Linked DNA regions of Homo sapiens. The protein of the gene in region 1 purifies or fractionates together with the protein of each later gene. This does not show direct contact. Each region holds a gene or a part of one and is shown on either strand. Other genes may lie near its edges.

Region 1 (4,166 bases):
GGCCAAAAAGACCATGAATAGTCACTATTTAATAAAAATGAGAAAATATTCAAAAAAAAAAACGAAAAATAGTCACTATTTGAAAATGCCTAATACCCATATGAGAATTTCTCAATCTCTCAATCATCAGGGAAATGGATATTACAACCACAACAAAACCACAAGTCACTGGATCGACAAACATTAAAAAGTCTCACAAGCCTCAGTGTTGGGGAGGACATTGACCAGAAGGAGGGCTGGGAAAAGCCCTTAACAAAGCTCTCAAGCGGCATCCACTAATGCCAAACATCCCAGTGAGCAGCGACTCCAGTCTCAGCAGAGAAACGCTCAGGCTCAATTCAAATGACAGGCAGGCACATTCACAGCAGAGCCACCTGTGATGGCTGCACAGTGAAGACAGCAAATGTCCACCTGCAGCAGGGTGGGTAAAGGGTGATGCATTCACTGCAGAAAGTCACCAGCAGTGTAGATCAGCCACTCCAGGCCCTCTGGGATCTGAAGAACTTTGCAGGCACAGGCCCCCTATAAATCCAGTAATGACCTGGGGACTGAGTGATTTTTGTCCACGAAGCCATCCTCCTCTTTGTACTGAGACGTCGTGGTGGAGAGTGAGGATTCCTCGAACCGGTCTAGGAGCGGGAGCAGCTTGGTGAAGTCAGGGTATAACTGGGTGTCTGGCGACAAGTTGGAGGCATAGGGGCTCTGAGGCCACAAGGCGCCTGGGGCTGGGGTTGGGAGTGATCCTGGGCCTGGCATCAGGGTTCGGCCTAGGACTGGGTCTGGGATTGGGCCTGGGCAAGAGATGGGGGCTGGTATTGGACCGGGGATCGAGACTGACAGTGGGCCTGACATTGGGCCTAAATTCGGGGCTGGGCCTGGGACTGGGCCTGGGATCTGGGCTGGGCCTGGGATAGGGGCTGGGATTGGGCCAGGGCCTGGAGCCGGGACAGCCTTGAGGCCCTCCTGTGTTCCACACTCAGGGCCACCCCAGGTCCGGGGGAGGCTGTAGATCTTCGGTTCTGCTGCTGGGAGGACTCCCCAGGGGCCCGGCTGAGGGGAGATCCAGGAACCCCTGCCCTGCGGGAACTCAGGACCCCCAGGGAAGGAGGCAGCGGCTACAGGGACTAGGGGCGCAGCGCGGGCTCCTCGGCCTCTCTGCCCAGGGACGCGCTGGGGCTGCTGCTGGAGCCGCCGCTCCCGAGCTAGTTTGGCGCGGCGATTCTTGAACCACACCTGGGGGGCAGAGGGGACAGGGAGAAGGTGTGAAGGAGGGACTCGCGCGGCCCGGGTGAGCCGCTCGGGGGCGGCGCCGGCCTCAAAACTCTCCCGGTGTTCACCCCCACCCCGCACCCACCATATGAGGGCCCCCGGCTCCCAGGCCTGGAGAAGGGAGGGAAGAGGGAGGGGAAAGTAGGGGGAGGAGGGTGGGGTGGGAGGGGAGGAGCCGGGTCTGCCGCCCAGGTGCCCGGGGGGCCAGGGAGGGTTCCAGGGGAGGGACCGCGGGTTCTCACGGGTGCCTGAGGTCCGGGCACCGGGAGACCCCGTGGGGGACAGCCTGGGCCGATCATGTGGGCGAGTTTGGGCTAGCATAGAGTTGGAACAGGACTCAGGATGCAGCCCGGGTCTACACTGGCGGGACCCCTTGCGTGGCAGGGCGGGAGGTGGTCGGGCGGGCCAGGCCCCGGTGAGTGACAGCGGTGGGGAGGCTCCTTGGGGTGACTGGGGCGGGCGGGGTGGGGGTGGGGGTCAGACCTGCAGCTGTTGCTCCCTGAGGCTGAGCATCTCCGCCAGATTCAGTCGCTGGTCGTAGTTCGGGTACTGGTCCTTCTGAAAGTAAAATTCTAGCACTTTCTGCTGGCTTTCAGTGTAGACCGTGCGCTCCTGCCGCTGTCTCCTTGGAGGGTCCAGGGCCAGGGGAGGGCCTGGGGGTGGGAGGGAAACAGGTCACAGAAACCCCCAGGCAGCCCCCAGCCCCCCTAGGGACCCCGTCCCCTGCGCCAGGCCAGGAGCCCAGGCAGTGTGGGCTGGGGCGGCACCGCGGATAGCAGCCTGGTATCCAGACCAGACCTTGCACCTCTCTGGGCCTCAGGGTCCACATCTAGGAAATGGGCGCGATAACAGCTCCTGGGAAGGCAGGCAGCGTAGGCGCCTCACCTCGGAGCAGACGGGGCTGCCTCAGGCCTGCTCAGCCCTCCCCAGCTGCCCCGTCCCCTCCCATCCAAGGGTTATAGGGACCCTGACACTTGCAGGGGAGCCGCCACCTGCCCAGTCCTCTGCTCCACTCAACTGCATGGTTTAATTTCTTTCCTTCTTTCTTTTTCTTGGAGGGGATCTCGCTCTGTCACCCAGGCTGGAGTGCAGTGATGTGATCACGGCTCAAGTCAGCCTCCACTTCCTGGGCTCAAGGAACCCCCCGCCTTAGTCTCCCGAGTAGCTGGGACCACAGGTGTGCACCACGACCCCTGGGTAATTTTTGTATTTTTGCTAAAGACGGGTCTCCACTATGTTGGCTCGGCTGGTTTCAGAGTCCCGGGCTCAAGTGATCCTCCCACCTTGGCTTCCCAAAGAGCTGGGATCACAGGCGTGAGACTCTGCGCCCAGCTGCATGATTTTTCATTTCCCAGACACCACTAAGTTCTCCCCCGTCTGCAGGACAGGAAGCCGCCCGCACAGGCCCAGCCCTTCTCTGGCTGCCCAGATTTGCACTCTGCAGCCTCAGCCACAGGATCAGCCCAGGCCCCTCACACCTCTGTCCCTGCTCACCTTGGAGATGACCAGGGTCTTGCATCCTGAGTCCTGATCTGTTCCCAAACACAAGTGTGTACTGACAAGGGCTTGGCTCTTAAATCACTTCTCTGCTGTGCCCACCCTGGCCCACCCTGCCAGGACCCTCCGTTTCCCACCCTGCCCTGCAGTCCCGCCCCCTGGAGGAGTTGAATGGTGGATTAATCCCTCATCACTGATCAGGTACTGCCTGCTGAGCTGTGCTAGGAGCTGGGGAACCTCAGTGGACAACACAGCCTTGGTTTCACCCTCATGGGCCCTAGCCCAGGCGAGGTGGTATTCCACATGGGATCGGGGGAGTCAACATCATGACCTGTGGTTGGGGTCCCCATCTCAGGAGAGGCACCGCCAGCCAGCCCCCAGGAGTCATCCTTATTCCTTCCCAGGGCTGGGGCCCCACATGATCAATGCCAGCGAGTCTACCCACTCCTCCCGGCTCCCGGGCTGCCCGCCTTGTCCAGTCACCATCCCTCTCTCCTGGATGACCCCACAGCCTCCTCTTTGGTCCTTTGAGGCCACTCTGGCCCCTACTAGTCATTCTTGAAGTTTCCTGCTCCCCCAACCAGGAGGGGACACAGGTCTGATGGACATTTCCATGGACTGCTACTGATGTATGCAGGGGACCCATTACCTTGGTTCACACAAGTCAGGTCCCTCAGAGATGCATCTGCTGTGTCAGACCCCTGGCTGCCCTCATCTCCTCATAGCAGGACCCACATGGGTTCAGGGGTCAAGGAGATTGACAAGGCTCATGATCCAGGGAGCTAAAAATGACTCATGCAAGGCTGGGCGCGGTGACTCACGCCTGTAATCCTAGCACTTTGGGAGGCCGAGGCGGGCAGATCGCCTGAGGTCAGGAGTTTGAGACCAGCCTGGCTAACATGGCAGAACGCCGTCTCTACTAAAACTACAAAAAGAATAGCCGGGCCTGGTGGCAGGCACCTGTAATCCCAGCTACTTGGGAGGTTGAGACAAGAGAATCACTTGAACCTGAGAGGCAGAGGTTGCAGTGCAGCCTGGGTGACAGAGGGAGACTCCGGCCCCCTCCCAAAAAAAAAGAAAAAGAAATGACTCATGCAACCAATTTCAAAATTCAATAAAACGTAGACATTGTTACCACGGGCCTCGCTCATTGTTTTCACCTGCTACTTAGAGTTCTATTGTAGAAAGCAGCATCCCCAGCAATGATTCCTCATTGCACACATTGTCCGGCTTCATCTACAGGACATGCTGGGAACACAGTAGTGACCACAGAGATTTTGCACCGTGGCTATTTATTTGGCCAATAAAGACATAAGCAGATGAACAAGCTCACTGGTACTATTTTGTGAAGATAGACATTTAAATATAAGAAAGTTCTGCCGGGCGCAGTGGCTCACGCT
Region 2 (2,683 bases), on another chromosome or scaffold:
AGACAGAGGGGTTCAAATGTTTCCAGTTTCCTAAAGGTTTTGACACTTGGTTCATCTGCGTTAGATCACTTGCCCTGTGGACCTCCCCACAGTCTGGACTTGGCTGATTACTTCCCCCCATTCTTGCTATTTCCCCACTTTTCACATTGCGTCTTCCCTTCCTAAGTGTATCAGGCGGAATAATGAGTGAGCCTGTCTTGCTCCTTGTAGATCTTCTCCCTGGGGTACTGCCCCACCGGGGAGTGGCTGGCAGTGGGCATGGAGAGCAGCAATGTGGAGGTGCTGCACGTGAACAAGCCTGACAAGTACCAGCTGCACCTGCATGAGAGCTGCGTGCTGTCCCTGAAATTTGCTTACTGTGGTGAGTTCAGCCGAAAGGAAACTGGAGGCCGTTGATGGCCCAAATGGAAAATGCTTCTTAAAAAAATATGGTAGAGATCATAATCTGGAAAAAATGTTCTCCGAGCAGCTGGATGCAATAATTCTATTGTTTTAATATGCCCTTCAGAGCACAGCAATGTCTGTTTCAGTCTGTTTTGCTAATTTGAGAAAAGTCAGCAGGCAATGTGATTGCCTAATACACGGTTTGGACACAAGTTTGTTTTGGAGGGGTTGGGAGACGACAATGAGTTTCTACTCTGAAGAGGGGTGGGCGGGAATTTATTGAAGAATGGAGCAGGGGCAGTGGAAGTCATTATGAGCTGGCCATGATGAGGAATCCAGGGTTAGAGAAGTCGATATTTAGGTATACGCAGACACTTAGTTACACTCTACTCTACAGTGAGGATGAAGAGGGAAGAAGTTCATGTGGTGACCCTTCTTGTGTGCTGCAGATGGGCAGATATCTGTTCACAGTATGCATAGATGGATGGATGGATGGATGGATGGATGGATGGATGGGTGGATGAGTGCCTATCACTTATTGAGCATTTTTCTTCATGCTATATGATGTGACTGGCATTTTACTTAAGTTGGATGTTTAATCCTTTAATTCCCATTAAAGATGGGAATCTTTAATCCCATTTTATCATGAGGAGACTGACTAAAATAGAACACATTCTTCATTGATTTCTATATTTGAGGGTTACCGTGTGTTGGATATGATGCTACTAGTCCTGTATCCAGTGACTAAGGAGGCTGATACCTCTTAGATTATACCCAAGATCACTGATAAATCACTGAGGAGCCCAGATTAAAACCTCTGTTCATATCATGGACCAGTCCTTAGGGCATGATAGTTCATATATTAAAAATGTTCTTAGTTTGATTAAGTCCAAGTTGCTAATTGTATAGTAGGAATTTTAACCTTGTGAAAACTAGATATTCCTTTGCTAATTCTAGGTAAATGGTTTGTGAGTACTGGAAAAGATAACCTCCTCAATGCTTGGCGGACCCCCTATGGAGCCAGCATATTCCAGGTGAGTAAGTACTCCTCACCTAGATCCACAGTTTGACCACAGTGTCGCCTCTGAAGCCAGGAGTGAAGGTGCCTCCGAGGGAGCAGGGCCTCTGAGTACCGTTGTTCCACATTAAACACATGTCCATTGTTTTCTCTTCCAGTCCAAAGAGTCCTCGTCAGTGCTTAGCTGTGACATCTCTGTGGATGATAAGTACATAGTCACTGGCTCGGGGGACAAGAAGGCTACAGTCTATGAAGTCATCTACTGAAAACATTATGTGGTTTAACGTTTATAGTTGAATTGGGCCAAAATGTTTCGAATTTATAGAAATAGAAAAGTTGTAACTTTAAAAGAGAAAAAAAATTACAAACACCTGTTTCCAAACCTTGACAGAAAACTACTTTGAGTCTACAAAGAGGAGGCGACAAGTCCATCAGCAGAAAGTCACCTGTCTACATAGACCAAATGGAGCACCAAGGCCAAGCGGACAGAGGGGCCATGGGTTGTAGGATTGAGGAACGGAATCTGCCGACTCACATGACAGCCCATTCTTTCTTTCTGGGTGATCTGGGGATCACGCCTTGCCCAAGTGTGAGATTACCTTTCTGTTCCTTGCAGTTCACCTCACTTTCCGTCCTTTGTAGAGCAGTGGTGTCTCCAATGAACTTGTTTCCTGGTTTTGCATCTTGTGAAATGTTTTTTTGTATTTTTGTTGAAGGTTAAACATTTGTATAAATTGTAAATATATTTGGTTTATTACAGTAAAGGCTTTAGTACCAATAAGTGGTTTTCCTTTTCTTTCTTTATTGTTTTTTATTAAAGCTTTGGGATCATCAATGTGGGTTTTATAAGCAAAGATTATACATTTGTAGAGGAAGTTTTGAATTGCACTGCTTATTTTATAAATATATTTGGTGGTAGGCTCCCATTGCATTAGAACCTAATCCTTCACAAGCTTGAGTTACTGGGAGCTCAAGACTAGGAATTGTGAGTAATTGAAGGTTTACTAATGACAGTTTTCTTTAGGAAAGTAAAATTACTTCATCAAGATTTGTTCTTTTGTTATGATACTATTGTGATTCAAGGTCAAAGATTAAAGCTCTACTTTTTTCTGGTGATTCATTGGAAGGCAAAATATTCCTTTTTCTAGGAAGGCCCAATCTCCTCTTCCTTTTCCCTTTCTCTTTCCCTTTCTCTCTTTCTTTCGTTCTCTCTCTCTCTCTCCTTTTTTTTTTTTTTTTTTTTTGTTTAAAGATTTGAGTTCACATTGTTTGTTACCCAGG

What was found.
Region 2: the proteins of TPRX2 (region 1) and TLE1 purify together in Homo sapiens (affinity purification with mass spectrometry, with the first as the bait; one large-scale study listed by BioGRID). This does not show direct contact.

What each region holds. Positions count from the first base shown.
Region 1 is NC_000019.10:47,857,869-47,862,034, reverse strand, and holds TPRX2 (tetrapeptide repeat homeobox protein 2), read right to left. Parts: upstream 2,801-4,166; 5' UTR 2,789-2,800; coding exon 2,764-2,788; intron 1,923-2,763; coding exon 1,753-1,922; intron 1,234-1,752; coding exon 523-1,233; coding exon of another isoform or gene 471-522; 3' UTR 314-470; downstream 1-313. UniProt on the Homo sapiens protein: Transcription factor expressed after fertilization required for zygotic genome activation (ZGA), a critical event in early embryonic development during which the developmental control passes from maternally provided mRNAs to the expression of the zygotic genome after fertilization.
Region 2 is NC_000009.12:81,583,183-81,585,865, reverse strand, and holds the end of TLE1 (transducin-like enhancer protein 1), read left to right. Parts: intron 1-210; coding exon 211-361; intron 362-1,341; coding exon 1,342-1,418; intron 1,419-1,560; coding exon 1,561-1,668; 3' UTR 1,669-2,183; downstream 2,184-2,683. UniProt on the Homo sapiens protein: Transcriptional corepressor that binds to a number of transcription factors. Inhibits NF-kappa-B-regulated gene expression. Inhibits the transcriptional activation mediated by FOXA2, and by CTNNB1 and TCF family members in Wnt signaling.